2 linked regions of the Homo sapiens genome follow. The protein of the gene in region 2 purifies or fractionates together with the protein of the main gene of each other region. This does not show direct contact. Each region holds a gene or a part of one and is shown on either strand. Other genes may lie near its edges.

Region 1 (3,500 bases), on a different chromosome or scaffold from region 2:
AGGGGGCTGCTGGGGCAGCTCTGGCTGAGTGTGGCCAGGTGGGAGTGCAAACATGTAGCTTGGGGCCACTGGATTGTTTTCAAAAGAAATCCCAATTTTCATGTAAAAAAAAAGTCTCGATTTTTAAATGTTGACACCTGATTTCAAAACCAAACAAAAACTTTTAACAACAACTAAACATGGCTGCAGGCCTAGATTCAGCCTGTAGGGGAATAATTGTCCTGTCTTTTGAAAATAGTCAAGTCCTCACAAAGAAGCCTTGCACACCATAAAGACTGGTTGTCTGAAATCCCCACGCCCTACCCATCTCCACACCCTGACCCCTAAGCCCCACAGCAAAGGAGGAGGCCCAGCCCACGGCAGCAAGGAGCAGCGGTGCTGGACTTCAGGAGCTATGACTCTTGGCTACTCCATGACCCTGTGCCCTAGAACTAGACAAGATTCCGTCTCCCCTGTGAACTGGGCGGTGTTCACTCCCTCTCTAAAGGCTCACTTGAAGACTTGATGACGCAAAGCTGTGGGCTCTATAGCTGTAACACCCACCCTCCTCACCCCAGGGGGTGGCAGCAGAGTGGACTCCAAGGCTGCACTGGTGCCTAGGCCCTGTCCTGCGCTCCTGGAGGGCAGGCATGAGAGGATATGGCCAGACTGGATGGAAGAAACAGACTTGCTCGATCCTGGAGAAAAATCCCCACAAGGTGGAGCTTTGGGCTGGCCCAGAACTCCTCACTCTGTGTCCTGGGGTCAGTAGCCCCACAAGATGCCTAATACCAGGCACACCCAGATGATGGAAGCTGAGTACACCCCTCCCGTCTGGAGCCTCCCGGAACCCTGTGGTGGAAAGTCCTGTTCAGCTTTGTGCGCCCCATCATTTTCCACTAGTTTGCATGGCATACACTGGAAAACCCAACCCCCTTTCTCAACCAAGATCTTGGGGCTGGAATCCCAGAGAACTTATGTTGTTTCTTCTTTTCTCTTTCTTGGGGGTTGGCAGGAAGCAAGAGTTTAAAGCAATAATAAAGCCGAGGGGGAGACAGGCAGACAGGAAGTGCAGGAAGGAGCGTCCCAGGAACTCCAAGTCTGGAGTGGTCAGAGGCACGCCCGCTGCAGGAGGTGCAGCCTCACCACGCGCATCGGATGCTTTAGCAGGAACATGCACTCCACCCTAGAAGCCCACCGATCACACCGTGGGTCACAGTAATGCACCAGGGTGTTCACAGCAGCATTGTCTGTAATTGTGAAAATGTGCAAATAACATACATGTGTAGCAGTGAGTGCAACAGAAATGGGAACTCCTGCAGCTGTTGACAGGACTGATATATATTGAAAAGCAAAGCAAACAACATACAGTAAATGTAAGTTAAAAGGCTGGGGAAAAAAACAGCATGTGTGTGATCCCATTTCTAGAAAACAGGTCTCATAAACTCATCTCCACAGCTTTGAGAACAGGGACCCCACCTCTCACATTGACCTTGGCGTGTTGGCACTCACTTAATACTGGCTGACTAATGAATGAGGGTCTATGTGCATCATCCCAAGAAACACACTGAGACAGCAGGCCTCTCTGGGTGTGGAGAAGCTTTTGGGTGATTATTACTTGCTTCTTTATTTGCTTTCATCTTGTGTAAATCTTTTAAAACAAGTATGGGTTACTTTTGATTACTTTGTATTAATTTTTCCTTATAAAAAGTGACTCACGCTTACAGTACATATTTTTTAAAGTTGTAATATGGGGCCGGGCGTGGTGGCTCATGCCTGTAATCCCAACACTTTGGGAGGCCGAGGTGGGTGGGTCACCTGAGGTCAGGAGTTCAAGACCAGCCTAGCCAACATGGCGAAACCCTGTCTCTACTAAAACATATAAAAATTAGCCGAGCGTGGTGGTGCACATCTGTAATCCCAGCTACTCAAGAGGCCGAGGCAGGAGAATCACTTGAACCCGGGAGGCGGAGGTTGCAGTGAGCCAAGATTGCACCAATGCACTCCAGCCTGGGCCATAAAGTGAGACTCCATCTCAAACAAATAAATAAAAACTTAAAAATAAAGTTGTAGTATAGCAGTTCCTTAAGACATTAAACACAGAATTGCCGTATGATCCAGCAATTTCACTTCTGGGTAAAGTGAAGAGAACTGAAGGCAGGATTCCAAAGGATATCGGAACACCTAGGTTCACAGTCGCATTACTCATAATAGCCAGAAGCTGGGAACACCCAAATATTTGTCCAGCGATGGATGAATGGGTAAACAAACTGGTGGTCTGTACATACAACACTGGGAAATTCTGACATGCTGCAACATGGATGAACCTTGAGGACATCAGACTAAGTGAAACAAGTTGGTCACAAAAGGACAAATACTGTATGATTCCACTTACAAGGGCAGAAACCTAGAGTAGTCAAATTCATAGAGTGTTGAATGGGTGCAGTTTTCAGTTTGGGAAGGAGAAAAGAGTTCTGAGATGGACAGTGGTGACGGCTGCACCGCAATGTGAATGTGCTTACTGCCACTGTGCTGTGCACTTTAAAATAGTGAAGATGGAGCCTGGCGCAGTGGCTCACACCTGTAATCCCAGCACTTTGGGAGGCCAGGGCAGGCAGATTACTTGAGGTCAGGAGTTCGAGACCAGCCTGGCCAATATGGTGAAACCCCGTCTCTACTAAAAATACAAAAAAAATTTAGCTGAGTGTGGTGGTGGGCACCTGTAGTCCCAGCTACTTGGGAGGCTGAGGCAGGAGAATCGCTTGAACCTGGGAGGCAGAGGTTGCAGTCAGCTGAGATCAAGCCACTGCACTCCAGCCTGAGTGACAGTGCAAGACCCTGTCTCAAAAAAAAAAAAAAAAAAACACTTCACCTGCAGATAGTAAGTTACTGAAGATAGTAACTTGTATTATTAATATTTCGCCACAATTAAATGATTTCTATCATATATGTGAATAAACTTTAACATTTAAAAAAATGATATAGAAAGATATAAATTGAAGAAACCGACGTCTCCACCAGCCCCAGACTCACTCTGTCTGTTAAGAAAATGGTCCTAACTTCTGGAACTAGCTCTTGCCACTCAACATTGGGGCTTGGAGCTCTTTCAGGTCACAACACGAAGAGATGCAGCTCGCTCCTCAATGCTGCTAGTATTCCACAGCTGAAAGTGCCCTGCAGGGTCAAAAATTTCGTCTGGGAATTTTTTTTTTTTTTTTGAGACAGGGTCTCGCTTTGTCGTCCAGGTTGGAGTGCAGTGGTGTGATCATGTTTCACTGCAGCCTCAACCTCCTGGGCTCAAGCCATCCTCCTGCCTCAGCCTCCCAAAGTGCTGGGATTACAGGCATAAGCCACCACACCTGGACAATTTTTTTTTTCTGGTTGCTGTGAAACCATCCTCCAAAGAGCCTGCCCAGTGTAGACTCCCACCAAAGGTGTTTGAGACACAGGTTCCTTTTCTTATCAGAAAACAACAATGCAGCTATTTTCATTGGGTGCCTGGAGTAGGGAGCAAGGACAAA
Region 2 (3,500 bases):
CCAGGATTCCTAATAATCTCTAATGGAACCCCACAAATACAATCTGAACTTCCCAGGCTTCGACTTCCTGTGGACACAAGACAGGACAGCAATCTCTATCTGTTATCTATTTATCTCTATGTATTGATGCAGGACCTCTTGAAGACCTACTGTGGTTATTTCTGAAAGCTTCCAGATATCTTACTTATGCTCAGGCACAAGATCACCTTCTGCTCCCACCTCCTCATTGATATTTCCTAACTATGGGCCTATTTATTGAAGGAAGTGCTTCCCTAGAGTACTACCTCTCAGTATTCTTAAAACAAAAATGCTCAAAATTCCACACAGAAACTGGAGGACTGCATATCTCCCAACTCTACATTTTACCCTCTCTTGACTTTGAAACATTGCTCATGCCCAGAGACTCAAAATAAAACAAACAAACAAAAACCCTTGCTAAAAAGAGAATCTTTTCAGTCTCTGCTTATTGACTATTTCTGCATAGTAGTTAGACTCAGCCCAGCCATCCCTAATAGGCTATTATTACTATTACAGGTGGTATTTGTCTCATTTTTATTGAATTTGGAAAATGATATGCTAAAGAAAGAATGATTGGCTTTATTAATGTCATCAAGTACAGATGTGAATTTATTCATTGATTCAACAAATATTTATCGAGTGCCTTCTCTGAGCCAGGACGATTCTTGGAACTGGAAATCCAACAAATCTGACACAATCCACCCTTTGACACAACCGTGTCTCTAATATAGTTAATATCAATAAGGGTAATTCCATGCCTTCTACAGAATTTAGGGAGAAGGCATTCCTAACATGAAAAACGCCATCATTTTCTGATGCCATACTGCTAGTGTTTCATGTGACTATCGATTATGCCGTGAATAGCTTTCAACAAATATCAGGTCTGAATTTCCTTCCGTAAAATGCAAATTAATGTATGCCGTTGAATACATCTGTTCAGTCCTTCAAGATGCTATAACAACCCCCTTCCTTTTTCTTCCTTTAGGTGTATCAGTTCCTATCCCTGTGATTGGACTGAGGGACGAAGAAAAGGTGTTCGTGAACAACACGACGTGCGTGCTCAACGACCCAAATTTCGTTCTTATTGGGTCCTTCGTAGCTTTCTTCATACCGCTGACGATTATGGTGATTACGTATTGCCTGACCATCTACGTTCTGCGCCGACAAGCTTTGATGTTACTGCACGGCCACACCGAGGAACCGCCTGGACTAAGTCTGGATTTCCTGAAGTGCTGCAAGAGGAATACGGCCGAGGAAGAGAACTCTGCAAACCCTAACCAAGACCAGAACGCACGCCGAAGAAAGAAGAAGGAGAGACGTCCTAGGGGCACCATGCAGGCTATCAACAATGAAAGAAAAGCTTCGAAAGTCCTTGGGATTGTTTTCTTTGTGTTTCTGATCATGTGGTGCCCATTTTTCATTACCAATATTCTGTCTGTTCTTTGTGAGAAGTCCTGTAACCAAAAGCTCATGGAAAAGCTTCTGAATGTGTTTGTTTGGATTGGCTATGTTTGTTCAGGAATCAATCCTCTGGTGTATACTCTGTTCAACAAAATTTACCGAAGGGCATTCTCCAACTATTTGCGTTGCAATTATAAGGTAGAGAAAAAGCCTCCTGTCAGGCAGATTCCAAGAGTTGCCGCCACTGCTTTGTCTGGGAGGGAGCTTAATGTTAACATTTATCGGCATACCAATGAACCGGTGATCGAGAAAGCCAGTGACAATGAGCCCGGTATAGAGATGCAAGTTGAGAATTTAGAGTTACCAGTAAATCCCTCCAGTGTGGTTAGCGAAAGGATTAGCAGTGTGTGAGAAAGAACAGCACAGTCTTTTCCTACGGTACAAGCTACATATGTAGGAAAATTTTCTTCTTTAATTTTTCTGTTGGTCTTAACTAATGTAAATATTGCTGTCTGAAAAAGTGTTTTTACATATAGCTTTGCAACCTTGTACTTTACAATCATGCCTACATTAGTGAGATTTAGGGTTCTATATTTACTGTTTATAATAGGTGGAGACTAACTTATTTTGATTGTTTGATGAATAAAATGTTTATTTTTGCTCTCCCTCCCTTCTTTCCTTCCTTTTTTCCTTTCTTCCTTCCTTTCTCTCTTTCTTTTGTGCATATGGCAACGTTCATGTTCATCTCAGGTGGCATTTGCAGGTGACCAGAATGAGGCACATGACAGTGGTTATATTTCAACCACACCTAAATTAACAAATTCAGTGGACATTTGTTCTGGGTTAACAGTAAATATACACTTTACATTCTTGCTCTGCTCATCTACACATATAAACACAGTAAGATAGGTTCTGCTTTCTGATACATCTGTCAGTGAGTCAGAGGCAGAACCTAGTCTTGTTGTTCATATAGGGGCAAAAATTTGACATTGTCAGAATGTTGTGTTGGTATTTACTGCAATGTCTGTCCCTAAACATAGTGGTATTTTAACATAGCAGCTGGTTAACCGGGACTACAGAAGTGGAAGGATAATGAGATGTAATACACCAAATAGCTTTTCACTTCTTAAGGACAGTGTTCAAATTCTGATTATTACAACAAGCAAACTGAAATTAGTGTTTTCATTCTGGTCCTTAGTAAATTCCTAATTCTATGATTAAACTGGGAAATGAGATCCCAGAGTTATTTCCCAACCCAGGATTCAACATCAATTGGGTTTTGATCTCAGCATCCTGGAAATTTGTGTGCTTCACACAAAGTGAAATTAGTATTTTGAGCCTTATTAAAATATTTTCTTAATTATGGTACCTCTGTCTATAGGACTTAATTTAGCAGTCCATTTTTGAGTAAAACTTGTATTGGAAGTATAGATGGTAGAAACTTTGGAAGTTTTACTTGATTAAGGACTACAGAATTGGGCCCTTAGAATGTGAAAAAAAAAAGTAATTAAAAAGACACTTTTACCGAACTCGGGATTACAGAAACACGGAGTTTCCATTTGGATTTTAAACAAAATTTATGTCATTTTCAGATCCTTCCAAACTCTCTAGTGCAGGAAAAGGCTGCAGCTAATTTGTGAAAGTGGCAAGCTCTTCATTGCACTGCAGTTATTTACCAGAAGTTTAAATCTTTGTTAAAATATAGTGTTGTGTTACAATAAGTGTTGGCCATCATTTCATTCGTGGGCCTGCTGCTCTCTAAGAATTCAGTAGCATTTTAATAGTTTCTAAACCATGAAAAGTTTTCAAGCATTGCTAAAGTCAGGCCATTCAGTCTATGCTGTGTGCAGAGTATACAAGTGTTTCTAGTAACAGTATTTCCATACGTGCCCATTTCACACAACTGTGGATAAATTTTGGAAGAATTCATGATGCTAGTTCTTACGCTTGACAGTTACTTACACACCTGAGAATGTGCCTCTCAGTATCTTAAAATTGGTTAATGAAAAATCTGAATTTCTAAAACCCTTGGTCTGTGTTCTCAACACACAGTATAGATAAATCCAATAGTCTGCCACAAG

The links. The genes of interacting proteins can lie anywhere in the genome.
Region 1: the proteins of HTR2C (region 2) and CAND2 purify together in Homo sapiens (co-immunoprecipitation; 3 studies listed by BioGRID and IntAct, with this or other methods). This does not show direct contact.

What each region holds. Positions count from the first base shown.
Region 1 is NC_000003.12:12,827,680-12,831,179, reverse strand, and holds part of CAND2 (cullin-associated NEDD8-dissociated protein 2), read right to left. Parts: intron 3,154-3,500; coding exon of another isoform or gene 3,091-3,153; exon of another isoform or gene 1,581-3,090; intron 1-1,580.
Region 2 is NC_000023.11:114,905,586-114,909,085, forward strand, and holds part of HTR2C (5-hydroxytryptamine receptor 2C isoform a precursor), read left to right. Parts: intron 1-1,003; coding exon 1,004-1,830; 3' UTR 1,831-3,500. UniProt on the Homo sapiens protein: G-protein coupled receptor for 5-hydroxytryptamine (serotonin).